4 linked regions of the Homo sapiens genome follow. The protein of the gene in region 1 interacts with the protein of each later gene in a pairwise test. Each region holds a gene or a part of one and is shown in the gene's direction. Other genes may lie near its edges.

Region 1 (6,024 bases):
CTTGCCAGGCTCTTCCTCCTGTCCTGCCTGGTCCTTTTCCATGACTCCAGGCTGTGCCTCTCTCCATGTTTGGTCCCTTCTGTGCCCATGGTCAGGAGCTATTCGGGTGGCACCTCGCTGGCCAGGCTCTCCCGAGTCGTGGCACCTCCACAATGTGAATTTTCTGAATCCCTATTCCAGGATTTCTGGGAATAATGTTTACTTCTAGAATGGGCCTGTTGTAAACCATCTCATCGAGGTGTGGTAAAGCCATTGGATGAGGAGGGGACTGCCATGGAAAGGAGAGTTTGTTACTTACGGTTCTGAGAGGAGGGGCCACATAGGAAAGCCCCACGGTGGGTCAGAAGGCGGAAGGAGGGAGGGGAACGTGTGGGCAAGAGACTTCCTCTGGTTTCCTCAGGAGGAAATGGGCAAGGCAGAGTAAGCAGGGGAGACAGGTTTAAGGGTAGCTGGCTTGAGTAATTTCAGTGGCTCTCAGGATAGGGGCTGCCCTTTTTGTCTGATACCTGGCCCCGGGATAGTCAGGACAGGTGAATGTTGGCCTGGGGTGTGACAGCCCTGGGAGAGCCATGTGAAGGAGGCAGCTGGCGCCATCGCTCCGGATTAGTTGGTTTCCATAGGAAAGGCATGCTTTCAGCCAGATGCTTGCCATCTCTAGGGATTGGGGGATTGGCTAGCCTGGGAGGATCAGTCTGTCCAGGTCAGCGAGGCCCCAGATACCAGAGCATCAAGAGTACAGGAAATACAGTTAATGCAGGGCCTCTGTGTGGCTGGATCCTCCGTCTCCATCAGATCAGCTCTGATTGATCTATTCTTGCACGATTTCCTCTGAACACAGGGTTCCAGAGTACTTAAACACAACATTTTTTAAATCGTGATTTCGGCCTATTTCCTTGCCAGGCCTGTTTCCCCACCAGGAAATGAGATAGGAGGACTGGATGAGGATGTCCTGTTATAGTTGCTGTGGAGGAAGTTCCTCTGGTTAATTCTCATCAGCGTCTGCAGAAAAGAAGGAAAGAGGGCACCCTTTTCAGTTGGGAAGAAAGGAGAGGGGTGGCGCCATGGACGTGGCCCTAAACGCTGTGGGAGAGGGAAGAGGAGGCTGGGCCTCGCTGCCCTCTTGTCTCTGCTGACTTCAGCCTGGTCATGCTTGCTCTGCCACTTGCGATTTCATCCCTAATTTCTTCCTCCACCATGCCTGCAGACTTTTCCCTGGGCTTGTTTTTTCTCGCACATCTCTGAAGAGTTTTTAATCTTCAGCTCATCATGTCCCAGGAAGTGGCATCATAAAAGGAAATATTTTTTTTTCCTAGGAGCAGTGTTAAAATCTGGGTCACATTCCTGACCAAGGACAGCATCCTGCCTTCTGCCCATCCCCTTCAGTTCACAAAAGCTGACATTTTAAACAAATCATGACTCACACGTATTAATTGGTTATAAATATGTTGTGTACACTGGTTAGATAAAACTTAAGGCCACAAGGAGGGCCCAGGTAGGCGATGTCAGTGTGTGAAGGGGCTGGATTGGGCGTGGTGAGGATGTTGGCAAACCAGTGCATGCACCTGGTTGGAAGATGCTCAGCCTCACAAAAGCTCCAAGCCCTTTGGGAGCCAAAGTGTCTGAGAGTGTGACCCTCTCCTGTAAAGTATTTATCCCACCCATTAATATAATTTCTGTATAATAAACTTGACCTGAAATTATTTCATTCTTTATATTAAACTTTTAAAAATGTTTTTTATTTTCACCTTAGATATGGGAAGAGTTTTTTTTTTTTTTTTTTTTTTAACAGGATAACTTGAGCAGGCTAGGCCTCTTAAAAAAAAATTTGAGCTAAAACTCATTTTTCTTTTGGCATTTTCTTTTCAATGTTCTTATAAGCAAAGTTCATCCATGTTGTAGCATGTGTTCAACTTTATTTTTTCATCGGGTAATATTCCATTGTATGGAATGGTAGTACTACATTTTATTTATCATGCATCGATTGGTGGACATTTGGATCGTTTCTACTTCTTGACTATTATACATAATGCTGCTAGGAACTTTTGTGTATGAGTTTTTGTGTGGACATATGTTTTCATTTCTCTTTGGTATATGCCTGGGAGCAGATTTGCTGGATCATATGAAACTCTATTTAACCCTTGAGGGACTCCCAAACTGTTTTCCAATGTGGTGACACAATTTTATATCCCATCAACAGGGCATGAGGGTTCTGATGACTCCACATCCCTCAGTGCTTTTTATTATCTATCTTTTAACTTAGCCATCCTAGTAGGGGTAATGTGGCATCTCATTGTGATTTTGGTTTGCATTTCCCTGATGGCGAATGATATTGAGCATCTTTTCATGAGCTTATTGGCCATTTGCATATCTTCTTAGGACAGCTATCTTTAGATCACTTGCTCATTTTTTAATTGGGTTATTTGTCTTTTTATTATTGAGTTGTAAGAGTCCTTTTATAGCCTGGCACAAGTCCCTTTAACTGGTATATGATTATAAAATTTTTCTCCGTGAGCTGTTTCATTTCCTTGATGATGTCCTTTGAAATACTAAAGCTTTTAATTTTGATGATGTCCAATTTTTATTTATTTTTTCTTTTGTTGTACATGTATCCTAGAAATCTCACTTTTGATACTGCCCTTAGGTCCATGTAAGTTCGGGGTTTTGGCTCAGGGATGGGGCAGTTATTCTGTTGGCAGGAAGCGCTAGTCCACGAGTTCATTAATTCTTCCCTGAAGCCCCTCTCCTGCCCTTGCCTTCCACTCACCCCGTCACTCTCCTTCTCATTACTGTGTCCAGGCTCAAAGCAGCAGCTCTCTGGGAAGGCCCCCGTTCTCCAGTTTCTCCCACTTTTGCATCCATTCCACATGCACCATCGTTCATGTTCCCATCACCTGGAGAGACCCCATTTCCAACCCGCTGCAGTGCATTTCTCCAGGGCAGCTCTCAGGGCACATTGTCACTGCACTCTGCCTTTATACCCGGAGTCTTCTCAGTCCCGTCACACATGGCTCCAGCCGGACCAGGCTCCTGTTTACCCTTGAAATAGGCCACCTGCCCTCACCAGGGGCCCGTTGTCACTGGAATGTCCTGACCTTGGTTGCTCTGGCTCTCCTGATCATATTGGCTCTGCCGCTTACGTGATATCTCCTGGGGCACACACTGCCTGCCTGATCTTATTTTCTCATCTGTAGAAGTGGGGCCCCTCCCCACCTCCTGAATGTCTGAGCAGTGTGAGCACCTCAGAAACTGGAGTCTCAGAGCACACGAGAGCCTCAGTAACCTCCAGGCTCCCAGTCATGTCCACGTCAGCCACCAGGTATCAGTTGGTCAGAATTAGGTGCACAGGGGCCATTTCCTTTTTTGCTTCCTCTTGCTTGTGGGGGATGAAATTTCTCTCAACAGTATTTGATTGCTCAATATCACAATAGTGGAAGTCTTTCGTGACCCTTGTGGTGAGTGATGGGGCAGTGGCGGGAGTTTTCCCACCTCCAGAGTGACATTCGAGACCCCTCCCCGGCTGACTCCTGCAACCACGGTCACCACTGTTTACAAAGACCCTGCCCAGCCTTCCTGGGTGCAGGGTCCCATTGTTCCTCCTGCCTGCAGCGCCTGTCGCCCTCCCTTTATTGTCGCTCAGTCCCCCTTGTCAGCTCGGAGGTGCCTTCCCAGACCTGCCCGGGGCTCCCTGGGCTGCCACTGCATGCCGCCTGTTTTGTGGAAGAGCACCTCGCTGTCTTTTCTGCTTGCAGACCTGGGAGTGCAGGAAGCATGTCATCTTCCTCTTTCAGGCCCCAAATCTGTGGATGTTGCTGGACCATAATAAATGATTGTTGAGGCCGGGTGCGGTGGCTCACGCCTGTAATCCCAGCACTTTGGGAGGCCGAGGTGGGTGGATCACCTGAGGTTGGGAGTTTGAGGCCAGCCTGACCAACATGGTGAAACTCCGTCTCTACTAAATACAAAGTTAGCCATGCGTGGTGGCGCATGCCTGTAATCCCAGCTACTTGGGAGGCTGAGGAAGGAGAATCACTTGAACCCAGGAGGTGGAGGTTGCGGTGAGCCAAGATTGTGCCATTGCACTCCAACCTGGGCAACAAGAGTGAAACTCCGTCTCAATAAAAAATCATAATAAAAAAATAAATAAATGATTGTTGAGTGCATGTATGGTTAGAGACGTGCACTGTGGGGCAGGAAAGCTGCCTTTGAAAGTGCCACAGACCAACTGGTGGCATTTTGGTAAGGAGAAAGTGGCATGAAGCCCACAGTCCAGATTCTGGATCCAGATGCAAGCCCTGTGATTTCTGGGCTGCCTGAATCTTCTGACCCTCTGCTCCCTTACACAGAACGAAGATGACAATATCTACCTCAGGCACTTGTGGGGATTCGATGAGGAAAATGACGGTAAAAATGCCAAGTATTGTGTTCTAAACCTAGGATAGGATTAATACACATTGGTGAATTCTTCAGAAATGGGAGATTCTGAATATATAAATTGTGATTCCCAATAATGACAAATCCCAAAGAAAAGTGAGAGATTGAGAAATAGAAGTTACCTGTTTTGGGAGTCTTCCGATTTCTTCAGATTTTTAACAAGAACGTTTGCATAAAACTCATGTTCATGAAAAACTTTCAGTAGCATGAGAAAATGGTTATGTTGTAAGAACCAAAAAAATAGGATTCAAAGCAGTAAGTACAGGCATGCAGCGTACTCACAACAAGACAAGCAGGAGCCTGTCTTTAATTTGTGTTGTTTGATTAGATAATCTGTTTACATGGCTGTGAATTCCAAAGGTACAAAATGTACTAGAACAGTCTGTCTCCTTTTTCTGCCCAAACACTCAGCAACCCCCCTGGTAGGCAATATATATTACTAGTTTTTTTCAAACTTCCCAGAGATATTTTATGCATAGCACATATCCTGTTGATGGGTATATTCTGTTCACCCCAATACATTATAATTTAGAGCAGACAACTCTAGCTCTCATCCCTAAGCAACCCAACCAAGAGGCAAAAACCCCAAAGATGTTACTAAAATCCTTTTCTCTCAAGGGGGAGGTTTGTACGATGTTTTCATTCAGTCCATTCAGTGGATAGATTTTACTTTTTGTTCGTGTTTAAATATTTCACCTTAAGGTTTTAAAACAAAGAGAAAAAGCCAAGCAGAAACCTTAAAGCTGAGACCTCAATATACATGTCGCCCAGGCTGAAGTGCAATGGTGTGATCTCAGCTCACTGCAACCCCCGCCTCCCAGGTTCGAGCAATTCTCCTGTCTCAGCCTCCTGAGTAGCTGGGATGCATGTGCCACCACACTTGGCTACTTTTTGTATTTTTAGTAGAGATGGGGTTTCGCCAGGCTGATCTCAAATCCCTGACCTCAGGTGATCCGCCTGCCTTGGCTTCCCAAAGTGCTGGGATTACAGGCATGAGCCACTGTGCCCGGCCTCAATGTGCATTTTTAAAATCTCAATTCATTAGAACCCTTACAAAGGTTTCTAGTGGTTAAGAGGCTGGGATACCAGATTGGACAACCTGGACCTAAACCCTGACTGAACCACTGTCTGACCTTGGGGGAGTTACTTAACCTCTCTGTGCCTTAGTTTCATCGTGAGGAAAATGAAGATAGTAAGAGTTCCTACCTCACAGGGTGGATATGAGGTTAAATGAGCAAATGTGTGAAACACTTAGAAGAGGATCTGGCACAGTTGAGAGTTTACTGTTGTCTTACCCTGGCTCTGCTAATTAAATAGCTGCAGGATATAGCCATTGAAGTATTTTTCTGTAAACAGGGAAACTTGGGCATTTGCATGTGTTTTCCAGGTCATTCCAATTCTAGCATCCTGTGATTCATAATTTATGTCACTAGCAAAAGCCTATGTCTTGTGCACAGTAGGGATTGCTGACTCAGGGTGCTGCTGCCGGCCAATATTCCAGAACTTGGGATTGGGAGCAGAAACTTTTGTCTCACGTTTTGACTCTAGCAAAAAAAAAAAAAAAAAGACTAATGAGTCATAATGTTTTAGGCA
Region 2 (11,103 bases), on another chromosome or scaffold:
TCACTTGAGCCCAGGAGTTTAGAGTTCAGCCTTGGCAACAGAGTGAGACCCCATCTTTTTTAAAAAAAAAATATTGTCTCACAGTTCTGGAGGCTGGAAGTGTGGTATCAAGGTGTCAGCGGGGCCATACTCCCTCTGAAACCTGTAGGAAGAGGCTCCTTCCCCATCTCTTCCTAGCTACTTGTGGTTTGCTGGTAATCTCTGGCACTCCTTGGCTTATAGATACATCATTCCAATCATGTTCATCTTCCCCTGTGCATGTCTGTCTCTGCATCCAAATTTTCCCAATTTCCCTCCCTCCCCTCATCCCCCACCTTTCTTTCTTTTTTTTTTTTTTTTTTTTGGTCTGAGACACAGTCTCACTCTGTTGCCCAGGCTAGAGTGCAGTGGCACAATCTTGGCTCACTGCAACCTCTGCCTCCTGAGTTCAAGTGAATCTCCTGCCTCAGTCTCCCGAGTAGTTGGGATTACAGGTGTGCGCCACTATGCCTGGCTAATTTTTGTATTTTTAGTAGAAACAGGGTTTCACCATGTTGGCCAGGCTGGTCTCGAACTCCTGACCTCAGGTGATCCGCCCTCCTTGGCCTCCCAAAGTGCTGCGATTACAGGCGTGAGCAACCGTGCTTGGACCAAATATCCCCTTTATATAAGGACACCAGTCATACTGGATTAGGGCTCACCCCCAATGACCTCATTCTAACTTGATTACTTTTGTAAAGACCCTATTTCCAAGGTCACATTCTAAGATACTGGGGGTAAGGACTTCAACGTGTCTTTTTGCAGGGACATAATTCCACTTATAACAGCAGGTTCACAGAGCTCAGCCTTTCAGCTGGCTTCTTACCAGTCAATAAACCCACCCATACACTTGGAGTTCCTAATCAAATCTTTCTTGCTTTCTCCTTAAAAATGAACAGGTTAGGCCGGGCGTGGAGGCTCACACCTGTAATCCCCAGGACTTTGGGAGGCCAAGACGGGTGGATCACCTGAGGCCAGGAGTTCAAGACCAGCCTGGCCAATCCAGTGAAGCCCATCTCTACTAAAGATACAAAAATTAGCCGACTGTGGTGGTGCCCACCTGTTGTCCCAGCTACTGGGGAGGCTGAGGCAGGAGAATCACTTGAACCGGGAAGGCAGAGGTTGCAGTGAGCCAAGATTGCACCACTGCACTCCAGCTTGGGCAACAGAGCGAGACTCCATTCCCCACCCCCCGCCCAAAAAAATGAACAGGCTAATCAAGGACCACCAACTATCTAATGACAGCCTATGGCATGTGGGAGAGACTATAATAACCATGTTTTCTTATTTTAAAATTTTAGATACAGGGGTCCACGTGCAGGTTTGTTACACAGGTGTATTGCATGATGCTGAGGTTTGGGCTTCTATTGATCCTGTTACCTATATAATGAACATAGTACCCAACAGAGAGTTCTTCAACTATTCCCCTCCTCCCTCCGTCTCACTGTCAGAGTCCGCAGTGTCTGTTGTTTCCATCTTTATGTCCACGTGCACCCGAGATTTAGCTCCCACTTATAAGTGAGAACATGCAATTTTTGGTTTTCTGTTCTGTGTTAATTTGCCTAGGATAAAGGCCTCCAGCTGCATCCATGTTGCTGCAAAGAACATAATTTCTTTCTTTTTTATGACTGCATAGTATTCCATGGTATCTATGCACCATGCATTTTCTAGTTTCTGTTTTTGATGCTCTGACATCTTGGGGCCTTGCTGACCCTGGAGGGATGGTCCCTCCCAGGGCTAGCCACATCCTAAAGATAGTAAGTGACTCTCCTGTGAGCACAGCTTTCAGATGCACACCAGCCAATCCAGAAGTCATTCCCCAACCACCTCCGTTTCAGGGCCCTCACAGGGCTGTTACACTCAGGGCAACTATTTCTCTGCCCTAGTCACCCCAGGGCCCAGTACCAGACTATTAGAAGCAGAGCCCACAAAAATTACTCAAACTAGCCAATCCTGAGCCTGCGTATCTGCCTCACCTGTTCCTTCTCACAGAACTCACAAAAAAGGCTCTCGTCCACTTTTACCCTCTTCCCTCTGCCTCGTGACTGCCCCTGGCCCCTGTGTGGTGTGCCCTGCCTCCTGTTTCTGGCGGTCTGTGAATCTAAGCTTTTTCCTTCATGACCGTCAATTCCGTGCCTGTATGTCTTCGCATATCTAATTTAAACAAATCCTGGGTACCCTTACAACAGAGGCCAAGAAAAATAATCAGGTATAAAAACAACCTGAAAAGAAAGAGGACTAACTCAGGAAATGAAAGAGGATGTTTAATTGGTTTCCAATTATTATTATAACAATATTTAAGAAGTTATTACACTCAAAAATCAAGAACAAGATAGTACGCAAACAGCATGATAATGCTGCATAAACAGAGTAAGGAGAATAAGTAAATAAATAAATTTTTAAACGGTGCAATAAGGGAACAAGAAAGTGTTCTTATAAAATAAAAATATAATGGCTTAAATAAATTCAAGAGAAAGGTCAGATGATAAAACAGAAGAAGCCTTCCATAAAGTAGGACAAAAAGACCGAGATGGAAGACATGAAAGAAAAGGGATATGAAAGATTTATCCAGGAGGCCCAGTTTACAGTTGTCCCAGATAGAGAAAGATAGAAATCAAAGAGGAAAAAAGTATCAAATGGACAACAAAACAAAATTGCCCAAAAGTTAAAGGTAGAAGTTTCCAGATCAAAAGAATCTACCAAGCAAACAGGACAAGGGCTTTTAAAAGGCCCAAACCTTTGCAAAATTTCAGAATCCTGGGAGGAAAAGGAAAGATTCTAAAACTTTTCTTTCTCTTCTTTTTCTTTCTCTTTCTTTCCTTCCCTCCTTCCTTCTTCCTTTCCCATTCCCCTTCCCCTTCCCCTTTTCTTCCCCTCCCTCCCTCTGTCTCTCTCTCTCTCTCTCACTCTCTCTCTCTCTCTCTCTCTCTTTCTCTCTTTCGGGGCTCACTCTCACCCAGGAAAATTCCTAGGCTCAAGCAATTCCCACCTCAGCTTCCCAAGTGGCTGGGACTACAGGTATGCACCACCATGCCCTAATTTTTAAGTTGTTGTAGAGAGAGGGTTCTCACTAGGCTCATCATGTTGCCCAGGCTGGTCTCTAACTCCCAGCCTCAAGCGATCCTCCCACCTCAGCCTCCCAAAGTCCTGGGATTACAGCTGTGAGTCATCACACTTGACCAAAAGCTTTCAGAAAGAGAAAAAAAAAAAACACCACTCACGAAGGAATAGGAATCAGATTTTTGTATCACGAACACCAAATGCTAGAAGACAGATGAGATGTACCTTTATACTCCAAAGGGAGTGGACACTAAACACAACTGGATCACGAACTGACAAGAAAACAAACAGTGGTGGTGAAGGTTATTTGAATAACTGGAGAGACAAATGTGGGCTACATCAAGTAGATGATACTATTTTATCTATATTAATGTATTGGGTACAATAATTATATTATATATGAGTATATCTTTGTTCTTAGGATATACACTTAGGAGTGAACTGACATATTTGAAACCTTCAAATGGTTCAAAAAAACTGTGTGTGTGTGTGTGCATATGCACACACGTATGTATGTGTGTGTAGACATATAAAGTCAATGTGGCAAACTTAATGATTAATGAATGTATGGGAAAGATATATACACGTTCTTTGTACTATTCCTCCAATTTTTATAGATTTGATGGTTTTCACAATGTAAAGTAAGGAATTTTACAAATTACTAATATATAACAAAGTTAGAAGGGTAAATTAAAAATAACATTTTGTATTATATTTTAATTTAAAGTAATTCTGAGGGGAAAATATTTTATCCAAAAGTCTATAACCAACCATGAATTAGTCAAGTGTTATGGTCAATTAAATATTTAGACATATGACAATATAGAAAATTTGTCTATCACAGACTTTTTAAAGACAATTACTTAAAAATGTGTTTCAACAAACTTAAGGGTTAAACCAAGAAAGAGCATAAGGAATCCAAGAAATAGAGGATGAAACTCAAGATGGCAAGGAAGGAAAATCTAGGATAAGAGGTATGCAACAGTCCCCACCATTCAGTGGGGAAAGGACAGTCTTTTCAACAAATGGTGCTGGGAAAACTGGATAGCCACATGCAAAAACATGAAGTGGGACCCTTACCTAATGCCATATTAACTCAAAATGGACCACAGACCTGAACATAATGAGCTAAAACTATAGAACTTCTAGAAGGAAACAGGAGAATAGCTTCATAACGTTAGATTTGGCAGTTATTTCTTGGGTATGACACCAAAAGCAAAGGCAACAAAAGAAAAAATAGGTAAGTTGGACTTTATGAAAATTAAAATATTTTGTGCATTGAAGGACACAATCAACAGAATGTAAATCCCATGGAATGGGAGAAAATAGTTGCAAATCATATACTTTGATAAGGGATTATCTAAAATATGTAAAGAACTACTACAACGCAACAACAAAAAAAGAAAAGCAAATTTTAAAATGGGCAAAGGGCTAGAAGAGACATTTTTCTTTTCTTTTCTTTTCTTTTCTTTTTTTTCTTGAGACAGAGTCTCGCTCTGTCACCAGGCTGGAGTCCAGTGGCGCGATCTTGGCTCACTGCAACTTCCGGCTCCCGGGTTCAAGTGATTCTCCTGCCTCAGCCTCCTGAGTAGCTGGGACTACAGGTGCGTGCCACCACGCCCAGCTAATTTTTGTATTTTTAGTAGAGACAGGGTTTCGCCATGTTGGCCAGGATAGTCTCAATCTCTTGACCTAGTGATCTGCCCTCCTCAGCCTCCCAAAGTGCTGGGATTACAGGAGTAAGCCATCGCACCTGGCCTAGAGTAGACATTTCTCTAAAGAAGATATACAAATGGCCAACAAGCACATGAAAAGATGCTCAACATCACTAATCGTTAGAGAAATGCATATCAAAACCACAACACCTCACCTCATACCCGTTAGGATGGTTACTATCAAAAACAATCAAAAAACAAACAAACAAAAAAACAGAACACAACAAATATTGGTGAGGAGACGGTGAAATTGGAACCTTCATTCACTGTTGGTTGGAATGTAAAATAGTGCAGTTGCTGTGGAAAATGGTATGGCCATTCCTCAACACAGAATTATCACATTATCCAACAATTTCTCTTCTGGGTATATATCCAAAAGTGAAAGCACAGACCTGAACAGATATTTCTACACCCATGTTCATAGCTGCATTATTAATAATAGCCAAAAGGTGGATGCAACCTAAGTGTCCATTGTCAGATGAATGGATAAACAAAATGTGCTAGGTATATCCATACAATGGAATATATTCAGTCTAAAGAGGGAAAGAAATTCTGCCACATGCTACAACATGAATGAACCTTTAAGACATATGCTAGGTGGAGTAAGCCAGTCACAAAAGGACAAATATTGTATGATTCCACATATACAAGATACCCAGAATAGGCAAATTCATAGAAACTAGAATGAGAATGGGTGGAGACTGATTATTATTCTCAGACCCCTCCCACCCCCACCCATTCCCATTAGAGGCCCCTCACACCAACCTAAATCTTTACTGGGTAGAGTTCCAGTTCAGGATGATAAAAAAAAAAAGTTGTAGAGATTGATGGTGGACAAGGTGGTTCATGCCTGTAATCCCAGCACTTTGGGAGACCAAGGCAGGTGGATCACTTTAGGTCAGAAGTTCGAGACCAGCTTGACCAACATGGTGAAACCCCATCTCTACTAAAAAATACAAAATTAGCCGGGCACAGTGGTGCACGCCTGTGGTCCCAGCTACTTGGGAGACTGATGCAGGAGAATCGCTTGAACCCGGGAGGTGGAGGTTGCAGTGAGCTGAGATTGAGTGACAACTGCACGATAATGCATTTCATACCACTGAAAAGTACACCTAAAAATGGTGAAAATGGTAAATTTTGTATTGTGTATATTTTGCCACAATTAAAACACACAGGCCAGGTGTGGTGGCTCATGCCTGTAATGTTAGCAGTTTGGGAGGCTGAGGCAAAAGGATTGCTTGAGCTCAGGAGATAGAGGCCAGCCTAGGCAACATAGCGAGACCCCATCTGTATTTTTTTAATGTAAAAAATAAAATAACACACACACAGACAAACAAACAGAATCTGTATGAGTCACACGTTTAGGTAGCTGAATATCCTCTCTGCCCCCAATTCCCCCAAGTCAAAGGCAGAAGGGATTTGTTCCACCAAAGAGTTTACACCAGCCACAGCTGCCCACTGCAGTATCCTCCCAGGAAAAGCCCTTTTGTGCGTGGAGGAGGCAGATGGCGAGGAGGCAGATGTGCACTTTTTTTTTTTTTTTTTTTTTTTTTAGAGACAGGGTCTGGCTGTGTCTCCCAGGCTGGAGTGCAGTGGCGAGATCAAGGCTCACTGCAGCCTCGAACTTCCGGGCTCCAGCGATCCTCCTGACACAGCCTCCTGAGTAGCTGGGACTACAGGTGCACATCACCGCGCCCAACTAGTTTTTTAAAATTTTAGTAGAGATAGGCTCTTGCCATATTGCCCAGGCTGGTCTCTAACTCCTGACCTCAAATGACCCTACCGCCTCCCGAAGCGTCGGGACCACAGGCGGCGAGCCACCGGCCGGCCTCTGTGTGCACCGAGGAGCCGGGCAGCCACCGCCACGATCCAGCTTTAGGACATTTCCATCACCCCACTCAGCCTTCCTGCGCCCCTGGTTCCTCATCTATAAATAGAGATAATATACGCCTAACCCTCTAGGTCACCAGCACATTGCACCCATAATTATTATACTTGTTGATGCCACACTTTCAGGTTTTAACCTTTCCAAAGCGCAGCCCCGCCCCAGCGCAGCCCAAGTCCCTGCACGCAGAGGCGCCGATCACGGGTGGGAGGTGGATCCCGGAGGCCCCGCCCCAGGCCCCGCCCCTCCGTGCGCCCAAGCTCGACCGCCTGAAATCGGGGAATCGGGCCTCTGCCGGCGCCCTGGCAGCGGCGCGGGGCGTGGCTCCGGGCTGGATTGGTGGCGCCTGGGCCCCGCGAGCGCCTGCGCAGTGGTCAAGGCCGCGCTCGCGCCGAGGGGCTGCGAGAGTGACCGCGGCTGCTCCAGCGCTGACGCCGAGCCATGGCGGACGAGGAGCTTGAGGCGCTGAGGAGACAGAGGCTGGCCGAGCTGCAGGCCAAACACGGGGTGAGCGCATCAGCCCCCGCCAGGCTTGGCCCTCGCGGGGCGCCGCCCTCGCCCGGAGTGTAGGGCGCGCCTCCGGGGCGGAGGCTCTGGGCGCCTCCCCGGGGCCCCGGTCCCCTGCGCTGCCCTGGCGGCCTCGTGGCCGGCTCAGAGGTGGCCTCGTCGCTTTCCTCGTCGCGAGGGGCCCAGGAGGCTGGCGGCGGGGGCCGCCACGTGCGGGACCTGCCCTGGCGTTGGGGTGTGGGGTCCCCTAGCCTGGAGCGGGCTCGTCCTGGCGGGCCTGGATCCAAGCACAATCTCAGCTTTTGGAGCCAGCAGCCGGACCGAATTCAGTTTTTCCGGAGTTCAGTTGTTATGACCCAAGTTTAGCCGACAGGTATTGAGGGTCCGCTGTGTTCCCGGTGCTGAGAGCGCGGCAGGGTCGGAGGAACGCTTGCCCCGCCGGGATGACAGGGAGGGGCCGCCTGGGAAGCTTGGATGGATCACACGCCCGGAGAGGCGTTTCTGATAAGGGACCGGGACCTTAGGGACGGAGGGCGCAGTCTTTGAGTTATCGTTGTCCCTAATACCGAGGCCCGTTTTATTTTCCAGAAATTATTCCTACATGTGAAACACGGTTTCGTAATACAGGGATTCCCCTCCCCAGGGTGCTCTGTATTCCAAAGCCTTCTGAGGTTGTGGTTTTAGACGTTCATCAAAACGTTGTAAGTGGGAACTAGTTCATTGATTTCTGTGAGGCCCAGTTTCTTATTTGGGGAGTTGTTTCTACCACCGCAAGAGACTGTTATGTATAGGAAACAACAGAACCGTTCCTTTTTCCCGCCGCCTCCCGTGAAATTTCTCTATTAAATTTAAGTTTTTTTTTTCCAGGATCCTGGTGATGCGGCCCAACAGGAAGCAAAGCACAGGTATGGGCTGGAAACGTGAACTTTTTGAAGGGTGGTTTCACCAAATGGATTTCTTTTGCTGTAGTTATTTTAAGCAGGTGTGTGACTCAGATTTTTTTGTTTTGCTGGAATGGTGATTTGGCCAAAATCATCCGCAGGGTATCTTCATTATTGTTAAATAAACACGTGTGCAGCTCCACATCAGACCTTGTATTGCAATTACTGGTTGATGTTTCTCTGCTACAATGTGAGTACCTTAAAAATGAGCCTGATAATAGGCAGCTGTGGCAGTTTCCTCGGCTGTGGGGGTGACGTGAGTCCGGTGCCTCACTTAGTAAGTGCTCAATAAGTGTTAACTGGTAAGCTATTCTGATTGTTTTATCCCAACACAGCGCACAGCACCTGAGACAGATGCAGGTAATTGATTCGGTGGCAGGTTTATTGAATGAGTATGTGATTACCCTATCATGCTATCATTTTTTAAAAATTGTGGTTAAATAAAATTTCACCATCACAACCATTTTTAAGTGTGCTCTTCAGTAGTGTTCACACTCTAGAATGTTTTCATCTTGCAAGACTGAAACCTTTAGCTACTGGACAATTCTCTATTTCCCCTTCCTCACCTTCTTACTCCTCCTCTCCAGCAAATATTTATAGAGCACCTGCTCTGGGTCAGGCACTGTGCTGGGTCTACAGAAATAGGAAGGGAGGGTTCGGGAGAAGACAGACGGTGAGAAGTATCTGGAGTAGTGATAGGAAGTAAAACGACGCAAATTTCATTGATTTCTGCCGTGTACATCTTTTCATTGTCACATATCTGAAATCAGGATGCCTTTTAAAACAGATTGCTCTTGCCCCAGATTCTTCCAGAGGGGATTTACTTTTGACTCTGCTATCACTTGAGTACATTTCTGAGACCATTGAAAGTTAAATTCTCTGCTTGAGGTTTTCCCCTGCCTCCTGCCTAGTAGTGTGAATTCAGACAGCAACCCTGTAAGACTGAACTTTTTTCTTCTTTACGTCAGGGCCAGGTGCATGCAAGCTTTTGTACTGCCCCTTACTGCATGGCATATTTATTTATTCTTTACTTTGTACTGAGAATGTTGCTCTTTGATACCCCAGTGGTGGGATCAGAACTCACTGCAGCCTCAAACTCCTGCTGGGCTCAAGTGATCCTCCCACCTCAGCCTCCTGAGGAGCTGAGATGACAGGCGTGCACCACCATGCCTGGCTAATTTTTTTAAACTTTTTTTTTTTTTAATAGCCTCGCTATATCACCCAGGCTGGTCTCAAACTCCTGGCTTCAAGTGATCCTCCCACCTTGGCCTCCCGAGAAACCCCAGTTTTGAATGGAGATCTCTATTAGACCTCTCATTTTAGGGTTTTTCATTTTTAGAGATACGTAAAACTATGGTGTATCTTAGAATTGATGGCATCTTAGGGTTCTGTGATATAATAGTTTGTGGCAGGCCAGGTGTGGTGACTGAAGCCTGTAGACCCAGCTACTCAGGAGGCCGAGGGGGAAGAATCACTTGAGCACAGGAGCTTGAGCTGATCATAGCTGCAGTGAGCTGTGATTGCACCACTGTACTCCAGCATGAACAGCAGAGTGAGACCCCATCTTTTTTTATTGTTGTTGAGATGAAGTCTCACTCCATCACCCAGGCTGGAGTGCAGTGGCACAATCTTGGCTCACCGTAACCTCTGCCTCTGAGCTTCAAGCGATTCTCCTGCCTCTGCCTCCCAAGTAGCTGGGATTACAGGCACCCGCCACCATGCCCGGCTAATTTTTGTATTTTTAGTAGAGATGGGGTTTCACCATGTTGGCCAGGCTGGTCTCAAACTCCTGACCTCAAGTGATCCACCCACCTCAGCCTCCCAAAGTGCTGAGATTACAGGCATGAGCCACCATGCCTGGCCTAGACCCCATCTCTTAAAGTTTGTGGCAGGGCTGCAGTACTCAAACCATAAAGAAGTGGCCTATGGAAATGAGCTTTAAGCCACATTCCATGAACCGAAGGGCCTCTGAGCTGGGAGTGGATAGTGGGCACAGCCAGCCCCAGCTCTCCCTCTCAGTTGAGCCAAAGCATCTGTGCTCATTTGTTTTTAGATTTCTTAAAGGATTTCATTTGAAAGAAAAAAGAAACAAGTCCATGAGACCACTGTCCTGTGAACGTGAACTACTTTCTATTTGGGTAGGTAGGAAGAAGTGAGGATAGTTGCAAAGTTATAATTTCATTCCCCTTCCCCACCCAGAAAAATAGAACTGAGAGTCTTAAAACATGGAATCTGGCTGTAGCTTGGCCACAGTTACCTATGTCTCTTTAGCATAGCCTCCTGGATCTCAGCTTTATCTCTAAGAAAATGATATAGATTAGTCACATGGTCCTTCTAATTGCCTGAAATCCCACTATAAATTTCTAGCACCTGTCACGCAATAGGTACTTAAGAAATGTTGGTGATGGTGTTTGAACTGAGGCTCCACTCTGATGAAACTGTAAAGCTCACCTTCCAGCCTGGTAGGTTGTCACCTGTGTAATATAAAGCTGGTTCTTTGAGGGCAAAAGGGGATTCTACTTGAATGTAGCTGCAGCCTTATGTACAGCAACTACCATAATGCAGTTTGTATACCGCAGGCCCCATGTGGAGACACATACTGGATGGGTTCTTTCTCGTATGTTACATGGGAATGCCGACAGCTGTGTTTTAATTGTGTTTGACCTATGTTTTCGTTGTAGGGAAGCAGAAATGAGAAACAGTATCTTAGCCCAAGTTCTGGATCAGTCGGCCCGGGCCAGGTGTAAGCATCTTTGATTTCATTTCCATAAAGTTAGCTTGAGTTAGTTGAATGGGGTGATTAGATACCATTATTGCTATCACTAGATGAAATATTTGCTTAGGCTGAAAACACTTGAGATGTGTAAGAAGTGTGAAGTTTATAAACCTAGAGAACTGTACTTTAATCCCTAGTAAAAGTACCAGGTCACTTCTCTTACCAAGATGTTCTCCAGGTGTGTATTAGGTAAGATTTATA
Region 3 (5,685 bases), on another chromosome or scaffold:
GTAGCTTCTTTCTATAAGCAATGCTTGAAGATGGACGTCTGGGTCCTCATTTCCTCCAAACTGGCTGCTACCTGAAGGCAGTCACACATTTCTTTTCTGTTGGGCTGAGCTGGGCAGAAGCCTCGGACTATAGGCCTTTCCAGGGCAGAGGCAATGCGGGCCACGAGTAGATACCTCCATCCAGCCTCCACCCTGGCACACCCAGAACGGCGTGGACTCAGGCGGGTTGCTGGATTTCTCTGAGCCTTGGCGTGCTCTACACTGCAGGGCTATACATGTTCCCAGCTTGAGGGCGTGCTGGGGATTGACAAATATATGAAACATATAAGCGCAATGATTTTCTAAAATTGTGCATTCCCAGCGTGCCCATTGGTTCTCTCTCGCTGGCCCAACTTTGTGTGCTGTCCATAAATCCCTTTCTGTGGACGGTGACAGTAGGATTGGGAGTGAGTGGGAAGATTGTGGAAAGATTGCAAAGAGGTCATTGCAGGACTCAGACAGACCTTGCAGTGGGTTTCAGAGTAATACTCAGGTTCTCCCATGGAACTTTCAAAGCTGGCTCTAAGAAAGATGAAGAGGACAAACCCACTCCTGGACATAGTGCCAACCTAGAACTGTCAGCTCCACACAGGATCACAGGGAAGGGAGCTTGGTAAGACAGCCCAGTAGGGGGCCCTGCTTTTCAGAAGAGGAAACTGGAGCCATGCAAGGGCCTGGGGATCAACTTAGAAAAGAGCACAGGACTCACAGTCCTGGGCCTGCACGTAAAGCTAGCCCCCTGCCCCACGGAAATGGCAAGCAGTGCTTCCCTCCAGGGGTTCTACATCTGTGCTCCATCTCAAAATGCATAAAAGCCTGAGTCATTCAGATGGGAGAGACAGTGTTTCTACTTCCTCTTAGTTGGGGTTCCTCCAGAAGGAGACCCTGAGAGAGGACTTGAGGTTATGTAGTTTATTTGAGTGAAGATCCCGGAAGTAGGGAGAGAAGGAAGCTGACGGGGAAGGCGTGCATTATCAAGTAAGTTACCGTCATGTGCACAACTGGAGCTGAATCCCACCGGGGAACCCCGAGAGACAGAGCTGACACCCCAGAGTTCACCCAGCAAGGCGGGGAGACAGCTGGGGTATTTATTCACCAAGTCTATCACTTATGAAAGGCTGTTTCTGGAAACAATTTCTGACTGGCCCTGCACACACCTGAGCATACTTCCTAAGCCGGGGATGTCCCTGAGCTGAGACAGGCGTTCGTGACAAGCAGACTTCGAGTGGAAGGCAGGCATCAGAACCACCCTGTGAGCTGGTTCAGACAAAGATTGCAGGCCCTTCCACCCCCCTGGCCCCGCCAAGTTCCTGACTCCCTAGGTCTGGAGTGGGGCCCGGGAATTTGCATTTCAAAAAATCTCGAGGTGATGCTGGTGCAGCTGCTCTGAAGTCTTGACTTTGAGAACCACTCACTAGTGAGAGTTTCCAGCCCTTACCTGTCTCTTATTGATGGCTTTCCCCCCTCTAATTTATAATTATGCTTTCACACCACTTCATGTCACAGATCCCAGGGTCCGTGCTGTGAATTTAAAAGTGGAGAATTAATAAGCATTTATAACTCCATGCAACCATTGCTGGCAGCTTAAATGCCATCTGCCAGCCATAATTTATTTATAATGGGGTTTATACATATTTATAAGTTTGCAAGCAACAAATGCACAGTTTTAAAACTGGCACATTTTATAGCAGCCAGAAAAATTGCAACTTTATACCAGGACTTGTGAATGTGAATTGCATATGTATATACATATACGCATATACTTACATTGATTAAAAACGGATCTGCATCTCTGTACACACGCAGATTGGCTCTGTGTTGTGCACCTTGGGACTCCTCCCTGGGCTTTGGTTTTACAGCTAAGTAGGAAGTCAAACAAACGTGAAGAATTTGGGAATTGGCAGGCTGTGGCATCAGCCATGGAGGATGGTCCTGGATGCTGTAGGATGTGAGATCCAGCACAAAGAGAACAAGAACAGGACATGAGGACCACAGGGATTGGGGGAACCCACTGTGGGAAATGACAGAGAAGCCAGTGGGGGAAGACAAAGAAAGAAGAAGGTGGAGGCAGAATAAAGGTGAGAAGAAGGGAAGGGGAGGATAAAACAAGTCCAGATTTAGATCTTCCTTCATGCAGCCATGCATAGCTGTCTGAGGCCAGCAGGGAAGGAGGAGAAAGGGAAGGTGTGGTGGAGGAGGCTGTGCTCGTGATGTCATGCTTTCGTGTATTCCCAGGTGCAGCTGCATATACTTGGCACAGTTTCTTGGGATTTCTAGCCAGTTTCTTGGCCTCATTTGTGCATTAGTTAATATGTGGCTGGCCCTGTACTGGGATGGTGGGATAGAGAAGTGAATGTATGAGGCCTCTGCCTGAGTTTATAACCTAGAAAGAAATAAAGACACACACACACAAAGGTGTTGGAGTGTGACAAGCCTTAAGGTACCCGTGTGTCCAAGTAAAGTAGAACCAGCAAGGGTGGAGTGCCCAGGTCAGTCTGGGGACTCTGGAGGCTTCGCACTGCAGGCGTCAGATACTGAGTGTTAGTGGCACGGAGAAGAGTGTGGAAGGCTCAGGATGGGGGTGGACAGCCTGGAGTTGTCACTCTCAGTAGAGATGCTAGAAGGGGCGGGAGGTGATCCCAGCCTCCCTTCTTTCCTCCTCCTGGCTGTCACAGATGCTCTGAATTGATGAATCCTTCAGGCCAAAAACACACAGGCTCCTTCCCTAGGTCTGGAAAAATGGTTCTCGCTGAAAAAGCACCAGGAATAAAATCTCATACAATTTTAGGTGTCTATTTTGTTGTCTCACCTTGAAATACTGCAGACAGAAAAACATGCACATGGGGAGCTGTGGTCCTGAGCTTTGAGGTAATGAATTCCCACTCATGTGATCATTTTTACCATAACCAAAGTTTCTAACCATCAAAATCAAGTGACAATTAAAACAGGCATTAATGGATAAATCCGTCTTTAAATATTAATGGGGTTAATTTTGTTAACAGCTATGTGTTGGTTGCAAGTGGAATGTTCTCTGTTCATTTGACTTTTGAATATAACTTGTTCCAGAATATTGTAAAATTAAGTATGTGAATGTTTCTTTGTATTCAGAATTAAACATTTGGTGTTAAAATCCCAGGATTAGGAGACAACTCCATGTAAATTTAATGTGTAATAATAAGATAATAACTTTTTAAAAAGCATTTGGATGGCAAATTATACATACTGACAAATGAATATTATCTGAAAGTTGTTTTGTTTCCATTAACTTTTGTGAAACAAAAAGAATTACTGTAACAGTCTATGTCTTGGCGTATTGCCAATTCACCACTTTCTACTTTGTGCTGGAACAGAACTGGCTTTTTTGACATCCCTGAGGAGTGGAAATGCAAAACGAATTTCAAGTTCTCTAATCTTTGTTCTATGACAAATGAAAAAACCTAAGTTATCTGGTGTTTTGGAGATTTGAGAATACAGCAGGTGAAGAGAATTAGCTTAAATTCCCTCCTCCCTTTTGATAAATCCACAGGGATTCCTTCACTCTGTCAGGAAATGGTGTGGTTTCCAAGCATTAGCCCTTCATGATCTGTCTGGTGCATTTCTGTGCTCCTGGGATCGCCAAGTGCAGGCACGGCATCGCATCCCCAGGTGTCATCCTGTGACCCAGGAGGGGAAGATGACACACCCAATTTAGGTAATGCTGCACTTCTTGTTATAATTGGTTATTGGAAAATGTGCCTTTATTATCAGAACAGTGGTGTGCGCATTTCTGATTATGGAGCTAACTTTTGGATATCTGACTTAGATACTAAAAACATTTGGGTGTTGCAGTTTTGCACTTGTAGATACAACTTAAAAGCATGAAACTGGTGATTTAATTAGATGTTTTCTATAAAATGCACCTTGTTACATTTCTGTGAAAGGGTCTTACCAGCGTGGAATAACTGGCTCAAGGGTTGAGAGAAACAACCATTTTCTAAACAGTTAATTGTTTAAAGGACTATACATGTAAGTCTGCAGGCAATAAAGGCTGTTGTGAAAAGTATCTTTCATTTGGATGATGGATTTTGTATTGCCTCACAAAAGAGAGGAGGGGAGCTTGAAACTTTTCTCTAAGAAGTAGGTATTTTCAGTGATTCCCTGGGGGACTGCTTAAAAAACAGTCACAACAAAGCCTCGTCCCATTCATCAAGGCTGCGGAATGAAAATGCATCCGGGCAGATGTACTCCTAGAGAACTCACCTTACCTTCTAGCTCTGGGGCGGGCAGCTGCGTCCTCACTTGCGTTGGGACATTTCATCATGAGTTGTAACAAGCATCGCTACCAGAACAGTTATGCCGAGCACTGGCCTCCTCTTTACATAGCAAGTGGGACAGAGAGGCTAAAATGGACCGTTTGTGTGGGAGAAAGCTAGTGTGCAAAGGTTGGTTCTGACCTATTCTCTCCTGCTGCATAAACAACAGCAAATGGGGCAGGACAAGAGGTCCCATGTCTTTGAGCTGCACTTTTATTACCATGGGTCTTAGAAATTTCTCCCTATCAAAAGACCATTCTCAAAATAGTATGACCTACCAAAATTGGTGTAAATAGCACCCAAGGCACAGACGCTTCATTAAAATACCACCTATGATAGTGGGTAAGAAGAAAGGGGAAAGGTTATTTGGGGTTCTGAATGTGGTTTAATTCCTGAAATGCTAAGAAACACAGGTGGGTAGCAAGCCTGCAACAACAGTGCGCACCCCTGCAGTGGGGAGGGCACCCGGTGAAAACGATAAAACAATCCCATCACATGGACTACGAAGAGTGGGTTTCCACAAAGGCTTTTGGTTTTATTATTATTATTTTTAACAAACATACATTGGAAATAGTAAAGGTTTCTAATTGAAAAGAGACCTAATGCATAGTTTCTCTGCAGCATAGAAGACCACCTGTTTCCAAACTTCAAGGTTAGGGCTTTGAAACATTCCCTGGTAAATTATCTCCAGCTGGCTAGCTAGTTAGGCATATTGGTGCACATTGGTATCAAAGGTGATTATTTTTTGCATTTAGCAAATGAGCGCTATTACTTTTTTGATGTATTTTTAATTCAGATTGCTCAAAAGTCTTGTTATTTCAAGGGAGCCTTATGTCATACCACAAATATTGATACCTCCTAGTGGAAATGGTGGCTGTGGGCTCCCTAGTAGAGTTAATGGATGAAGGCTGAGATACTTAGATACTGCGGACATCAGGGTTATGGAGCAAAGTGTTATGAACAATAGCTACAGAGAGCTCCAAGTCTCCCAAAGCAACTCATAACTATAACACAGATAAAGTTCCAAAGTCATTTCATCACCTATGTGAAAATGCAATACTGAATGTTTTGGCTCTCTGATGCATTTTGTTGTTGTTTTATTTATTATTATTATTATTTTTTGAGACAGAGGGTCGCTCTGTCACCCAGGCTGGAGTGCAGCGGTGCGATCTTGGCTCACTGCAATCTCCGCCTCCCGGGTTTGAGCAACTCTCCAGCCTCAGCCTCCCGAGTAGCTGGGACTACAGGCACGTGCTATCGCATCCAGCTAATTTTTGTATTTTTAGTAGAAACAGGATTTCACTATGTTGGCCAGGCTGGTCACAAACTCCTGACCTCAGGTGATCCACCCGCC
Region 4 (7,261 bases), on another chromosome or scaffold:
CATTACTTTTTAGCTTCTTTACTTAACCAATGTTGATACAAGCAGCTTCACATATCAGTTATCAAAAAAATACCTCAAATACATAAAAAAAAATTGTCAGCTTGATTTTTCTTTCTTATTTATTTATTTTTTTCCTTTTGGAGATGGAGTTTCGCTCTTTCACCCAGGCTGGAGTGCAGTGGTGTGATCTCAGCTCACTGCAACCTCTGCCTCCTGGGTTCAAGTGATTCTCCTGCCTCAGCCTCCCAAGTAGCTGGGACTACAGGCATGTGCCACCACACCCGGCTAATTTTTGTATTTTTAGTAGAGACGCGGTTTCACTGTGTTGGCCAAGCTGGTCTCGAACTCCTGACTTCAGGTGATGCATCTGCCTGGGCCTCCCAAAGTTGTAGGATTACAGGCACGAGCCACCATGCCAGGCCTGATTTTTAAGGTCTAGAAGATGAGCATATTATTCCTAGTCTTTTCTCTTGATAAGTATTAGGCAAATGTGTCAGAACTAAATAATGGTTGTCAGTACTTCATTGATGTGAGAGACAATCTACTAATCAATCTCTCTCTCTCCCCCCATACCCCTTCTCTCTCTTCTCTTCCCAGTAGAAATACCATTAGCCAGTTTACGAGGGGAACAAGGTCCCCGTGGAGAGCCTGGCCCAAGAGGACCACCTGGGCCCCCTGGTTTGCCAGGTCATGGGATACCTGGAATTAAAGGAAAACCAGGGCCACAGGGATATCCAGGAGTTGGAAAGCCAGGTATGCCTGGAATGCCAGGGAAGCCAGGAGCCATGGGCATGCCTGGGGCAAAAGGAGAAATTGGACAGAAAGGGGAAATTGGGCCTATGGGGATCCCAGGACCACAAGGACCTCCAGGGCCTCATGGACTTCCTGGCATTGGGAAGCCAGGTGGGCCAGGGTTACCAGGGCAACCAGGACCAAAGGGTGATCGAGGACCCAAAGGACTACCAGGACCTCAAGGCCTTCGGGGTCCTAAAGGAGACAAGGGCTTCGGGATGCCAGGTGCGCCAGGTGTAAAGGGGCCTCCAGGGATGCACGGCCCTCCCGGCCCTGTTGGACTGCCAGGAGTGGGCAAACCAGGAGTGACAGGCTTCCCTGGGCCCCAGGGCCCCCTGGGAAAGCCAGGGGCTCCAGGAGAACCTGGGCCACAAGGCCCTATTGGGGTACCGGGGGTTCAAGGACCTCCTGGGATACCCGGAATTGGAAAGCCAGGCCAGGATGGGATCCCAGGCCAGCCAGGATTTCCAGGTGGCAAAGGGGAGCAAGGACTGCCAGGGCTACCAGGACCCCCAGGCCTTCCAGGGATTGGGAAACCAGGCTTCCCAGGACCCAAAGGTGACCGGGGCATGGGAGGTGTTCCTGGGGCTCTTGGACCAAGAGGGGAGAAAGGACCAATAGGTGCCCCAGGAATAGGGGGTCCTCCAGGAGAGCCAGGCCTGCCTGGAATCCCAGGTCCTATGGGCCCTCCAGGTGCTATTGGTTTTCCTGGACCCAAAGGAGAAGGTGGGATTGTAGGGCCACAGGGGCCACCAGGTCCCAAGGGTGAGCCAGGGCTTCAAGGCTTCCCAGGAAAGCCAGGTTTCCTTGGTGAAGTAGGGCCTCCTGGCATGAGGGGTTTGCCAGGTCCCATAGGGCCCAAGGGGGAAGCTGGGCAAAAAGGTGTACCAGGACTCCCTGGTGTTCCAGGGCTTCTCGGACCTAAGGGAGAGCCAGGAATCCCAGGGGATCAGGGTTTACAGGGCCCCCCAGGTATCCCAGGGATTGGGGGCCCTAGTGGCCCCATTGGACCACCTGGGATTCCAGGCCCCAAAGGGGAGCCGGGCCTCCCAGGGCCCCCTGGGTTCCCTGGTATAGGGAAACCCGGAGTGGCAGGACTTCATGGCCCCCCAGGGAAGCCTGGTGCCCTTGGTCCTCAAGGCCAGCCTGGCCTTCCAGGACCCCCAGGCCCTCCAGGACCTCCAGGACCCCCAGCTGTGATGCCCCCTACACCACCACCCCAGGGAGAGTATCTGCCAGATATGGGGCTGGGAATTGATGGCGTGAAACCCCCCCATGCCTACGGGGCTAAGAAAGGCAAGAATGGAGGGCCAGCCTATGAGATGCCTGCATTTACCGCCGAGCTAACCGCACCTTTCCCACCGGTGGGGGCCCCAGTGAAGTTTAACAAACTGCTGTATAACGGCAGACAGAACTACAACCCGCAGACAGGCATCTTCACCTGTGAGGTCCCTGGTGTCTACTACTTTGCATACCACGTTCACTGCAAGGGGGGCAACGTGTGGGTTGCTCTATTCAAGAACAACGAGCCCGTGATGTACACGTACGACGAGTACAAAAAGGGCTTCCTGGACCAGGCATCTGGGAGTGCAGTGCTGCTGCTCAGGCCCGGAGACCGGGTGTTCCTCCAGATGCCCTCAGAACAGGCTGCAGGACTGTATGCCGGGCAGTATGTCCACTCCTCCTTTTCAGGATATTTATTGTATCCCATGTAAAAACAAAAAAACAAAAAACAAAGAAAAGAAAGAGATTTTATAGAAGAAAATGACACACCAAAAAATCCAAATGAAAAACATAATTGCTTCAAAACACTTACACAGTTGGAAAGTTATATGTAAGTGAAAATTTGGACCATTGTGTACAAATAAAAACTAAGATGCATGTTTAATACTCCACACAGCAGCCTGTAATTGCGAATGATGGGATAGAGTTATGTATCAAGTACTGACACTTGGTTGTACCCACTGGAATCATATTAGCTGTTTTATGTTATATGCTTCCACAGTAACCTGCTTATTCAGATCAGTCAAAATATATCAGTATGAAAGATCATAGCTAATGAAAGGCACTCACTCATATTGTTTACTTTAAAATATTTATAAATATGCCTTAAAGAAATACAAATGATAACAATTACATACCGTATTTACTTGCTTAATTTCCTCTGTATTTGTGTAGATACTTTGACATGGAATATATGGTGGGGAGACCCGTAGTGTTACCGCCCCAGTGGGAGGGGGCCCTGGGGACCCTGGTAATGCTTTAGTCAAAGGGATATCTCTCTTGTATCAGAGGCTGTGTCTTTTAGTAACAGGAGTCCTCGTCAGAATTGCGTGTCTGTTGTCTCTAAAAGAATGGGTGAACCAATCGGCCTTTGTGAATTTATTCAGTGCCTTCTCTGTACCAAGCACTGGGTAAGGCACTTTTGTGGAGCATTAGACAGTAACCCTCAAGGAGCTAGAGAACCGGATGGGAGACATGAGCAGTAATTAACTCACTTGTTCCCCAGAGTTTCTATTTGTTTTGATTTTCTTTTTCTGTGACTTATTTTCCTATTTTCTTTCCTCCATGTAATTTTCACTATGGCCCAACTAATATAAACACCTGGAAATTACAAGGAAAAAAAATTCTTCCTCTAATAACTTTCCAAATTTGTGGAATATTTATTTGTAATAGCAGTTATCAGTTATGCTTATATAGCATTAAAAATTCTCCTCCTTTGACTACACACACAACCACAGTGTGGTTCTAATCATGGAGATATCAGTAATTTTTAGTAACTGAATTTTGAGGACATTTCTCTGTTTAGCATGTATGCAAACTGATATGTAATCTGAGGTTCCAAAGTCAATTTTTTTCTTTTTTTTTTGAGATGGAGTCTTACTCTGTCACCCAGGCTGGAGTGCAGTAGCACGATCTTGGCTTACTGCAACCTCTACCTCCTAGGTTCAAGCAATTGTCCTGTCTCAGCCTCCCGAGTACTGGGACTACTGTCTTGCGCCACCATGCCTGGCTAATTTTTGTATATTTAGTAAAGATGGGTTTTCGCCATGTTGGCCAGGCTGGTCTCAAACTCCTGGCCTCAAGTGATGCACCTGCCTCAGCCTTCCAAAGTGCTGGGATTACAGGCATGAGCCACCGTGCCCGGCCAAAGTCAGCTTTCAAAATCCAAGCCATAATTGGTGAGGGGGGAGTTTCAGAATTACATAGAAAAATTAATATTTGAAAAAATAATTCTGAAATTTCGAATTTAAAAACAGATGTGCTGCTTCTGGGTGTAGGTAGTAAAAGTATAGGAAAAGAACTGTTTCCTTAGAAGCGGACTGTGGAAGGGCTATGTAGAATGTCAAAGGGCAACAAGAGCCTGTGTTTTTAATGTCATCCTGTACTCGGCACAAATCAAAGGCCAATACAAGTCTGAAAAGCAGAAATAAATATTTTTCCAGGTTTTTGCTTGGGCACATACTAACTGCTTTGGGCATTCTAATCTGGTCTCCAAACACCAAAGACCCATTTCGAGCCTGCTATTAGCCTGCTGCTGACTCTATCACTTGGAGCAATAATGTGGGGTTATGGTGGTGGAATCTTGTATATTTTTGTCAAAAATAAAACCATGAGTTAAGGGGATAGATATAGATGGAAAAATACACAAATAAATACGGTATGAAAACACATGGAAATGTGTCTTTGTCAAATCTGAATCATTATTACCATCACAAAAATTCTTCTCTTGGCCAATATCTCATTTCCCTATATAGTATACAAGCACCATTTCTTCTCAATTTTTAAGAAGAGAAATTAGTCCATTACCACAGGGGTTCTTGTCACTACTAATTATACAACAATCTTTTCCCAACAAAAAGATGTCCTCCACAACCTTTGTTTTCAAAGCAGACAGCATCTATGTGGCCAAATATACTTTGGGTTGTTCTTGAGGATACTGGTTTTGGGCTGATGACTATGGTGGGCAGCATGGATCCATTGGGCTCCTTCTGCTAAACAGCCACATTGAAATGGTTTAAAAGCAAGTCAGATCAGGTGATTTGTAAAATTGTATTTATCTGTACATGTATGGGCTTTTAATTCCCACCAAGAAAGAGAGAAATTATCTTTTTAGTTAAAACCAAATTTCACTTTTCAAAATATCTTCCAACTTATTTATTGGTTGTCACTCAATTGCCTATATATATATATATATGTGTGTGTGTGTGTGTGTGCGCGTGAGCGCACGTGTGTGTATGCGTGCGCATGTGTGTGTATGTGTATTATCAGACATAGGTTTCTAACTTTTAGATAGAAGAGGAGCAACATCTATGCCAAATACTGTGCATTCTACAATGGTGCTAATCTCAGACCTAAATGATACTCCATTTAATTTAAAAAAGAGTTTTAAATAATTATCTATGTGCCTGTATTTCCCTTTTGAGTGCTGCACAACATGTTAACATATTAGTGTAAAAGCAGATGAAACAACCACGTGTTCTAAAGTCTAGGGATTGTGCTATAATCCCTATTTAGTTCAAAATTAACCAGAATTCTTCCATGTGAAATGGACCAAACTCATATTATTGTTATGTAAATACAGAGTTTTAATGCAGTATGACATCCCACAGGGGAAAAGAATGTCTGTAGTGGGTGACTGTTATCAAATATTTTATAGAATACAATGAACGGTGAACAGACTGGTAACTTGTTTGAGTTCCCATGACAGATTTGAGACTTGTCAATAGCAAATCATTTTTGTATTTAAATTTTTGTACTGATTTGAAAAACATCATTAAATATCTTTAAAAGTATGTTTCTCATCTTGTTCGTATCATTCAGTTGACACTGAACCTCACAAGTATTTTTAAATTCGTACTCTCATGAATTAGCTGCTGAAATAGAGACCTAAAATAAGCATAGCTTATACAGAACAATTTATTCCTCTTTGACTTAAGAGCTCCTAGGATAAGCAGTCTAGGACTCACATGGTAATTCCAATCACAGCCCCAGGCTCCTTCCATCTTATTGCTCTTCTACATCAAGGGTGTTGCCCTCATCTCCATGGTCCAGGATACTAACCATCAGTCACATTCTATCCCCGGGGAGGATGAACAAAGCAGGAAGGACAGGACATGCTTTTTGTCTTAAAGGACTCAACCTAGCAGCTGCTTGGATCACTGTCTCCCACATCCCGTGGCTCCAAATTTAGTCACGTGACCACAAGAAGCTGTAAGGAAGTGTGGGAAATTGAATAGTCTATGTAACCATATGCCCAGCTAAAAATCAGGGGTTCTAGTAGTATGGGAGAAGAGAGAATCAATATTAGGGAATAATTAGCTGCTGCATCTTCCACTTCCATCAAAAAAGAAAAAATGGCCACGGACTTCTCTTTTCCCACAAGAGACCAATCTTCAAATACTCCATTCTATTTCACTCTGCCACAAAAAAGCCAAATATTTTGAGGGGAGATAGTGGTGAGTGGAGGTAAAGGGAAGAAGCAGACCCGTTTGAAGAGCCTGAGGGTCTTAGTAAGACCCTGAGAAGAAAGAATTATTTTGTGATGACTTACCAATCCCAGAATGATCATAACTTACCATGTCTAAAATATTATAAAGGGATTATTCAAATCATTCAATAAGCAAGATGTACCACCAGTCTATGGCTGGTTAACTTACTTGTTTAAACCATCAGGCTGGAAACGCAAGACTACAACTTCCATTCCCATACAGCCCAGTTGGTTTGGTTTTATTTCACAGCCAAATACACTTCCCTCACAGTCATCTTACAGGCATAGAGTGTTGTCACAAAAGTGAATGGAAGAACAGATAGAGGAAATGGAGGCAAGGAAGAATAAATGGTTAGAATTTGGAATTCTGAAGAGCAGGGCAAATCTATCATTACTGTTACTAAATAAAGGAAATCAAAATACATCTTACAATGGGTGTATAGTACCCCTTTATATTAAAACAGAACACAAATAAGGTAGCCCCTACTTGGTGCCTGATACTACTAAGCAATGTGAGGCATACAAAAGGAGAGAAAACATCTCTTCTCCTTAAAAAATTATCTTCTGGGCCAGGCGTGGTGGCTCACACCTATAATCCCAGCACTTTGGGAGGCTGAGGTGGGCAGATCACGAGGTCAAGAGATCGAGACCATCCTGGCCAACCTGGTGAAACCCCAACCCCATCTCTACTAAAAATACAAAAATTAGCTGGGTGTGGTGGTGCGCACCTGTAGTCCCAGTTACTCAGGAGGCTGAGGCAGGAGAATCGCTTGAACCCAGGAGGCAGAGGTTGCAGTGAGCCAAGATGGATCCACTGCACTCCAGCCTGGCGACAGAGCAAGACTCTGTAAAAAAAAAAAAAAAAAAAAAGTATCTTCTGGTTGGAGGATATCAAGATGTTTGTTAAACAGAAAATTGATGTCCAAGAGCAGAACCTGCACAGAGCAGGGTGGTGTGATGTTGACTGGATTCATACGT

What was found.
Region 2: the proteins of TRIM35 (region 1) and PDCD5 interact in binary tests that used the Homo sapiens proteins (3 or more experiments, as listed by UniProt).
Region 3: the proteins of TRIM35 (region 1) and SHC3 interact in binary tests that used the Homo sapiens proteins (3 or more experiments, as listed by UniProt).
Region 4: the proteins of TRIM35 (region 1) and COL8A1 interact in binary tests that used the Homo sapiens proteins (3 or more experiments, as listed by UniProt).

What each region holds. Positions count from the first base shown.
Region 1 is NC_000008.11:27,281,427-27,287,450, reverse strand, and holds the end of TRIM35 (E3 ubiquitin-protein ligase TRIM35), read left to right. Parts: 3' UTR 1-2,565; downstream 2,566-6,024. UniProt on the Homo sapiens protein: E3 ubiquitin-protein ligase that participates in multiple biological processes including cell death, glucose metabolism, and in particular, the innate immune response.
Region 2 is NC_000019.10:32,574,143-32,585,245, forward strand, and holds the start of PDCD5 (programmed cell death protein 5), read left to right. Parts: upstream 1-7,047; 5' UTR 7,048-7,119; coding exon 7,120-7,185; intron 7,186-8,052; coding exon 8,053-8,090; intron 8,091-10,807; coding exon 10,808-10,869; intron 10,870-11,103. UniProt on the Homo sapiens protein: May function in the process of apoptosis.
Region 3 is NC_000009.12:89,004,167-89,009,851, reverse strand, and holds the end of SHC3 (SHC-transforming protein 3), read left to right. Parts: 3' UTR 1-1,674; coding exon of another isoform or gene 1,675-2,334; 3' UTR 2,335-4,081; downstream 4,082-5,685. Other genes in the region: uncharacterized protein LOC124902206, read right to left, coding at 1,675-2,334. UniProt on the Homo sapiens protein: Signaling adapter that couples activated growth factor receptors to signaling pathway in neurons. Involved in the signal transduction pathways of neurotrophin-activated Trk receptors in cortical neurons.
Region 4 is NC_000003.12:99,793,630-99,800,890, forward strand, and holds the end of COL8A1 (collagen alpha-1(VIII) chain precursor), read left to right. Parts: intron 1-600; coding exon 601-2,507; 3' UTR 2,508-5,588; downstream 5,589-7,261. UniProt on the Homo sapiens protein: Macromolecular component of the subendothelium. Major component of the Descemet's membrane (basement membrane) of corneal endothelial cells. Also a component of the endothelia of blood vessels.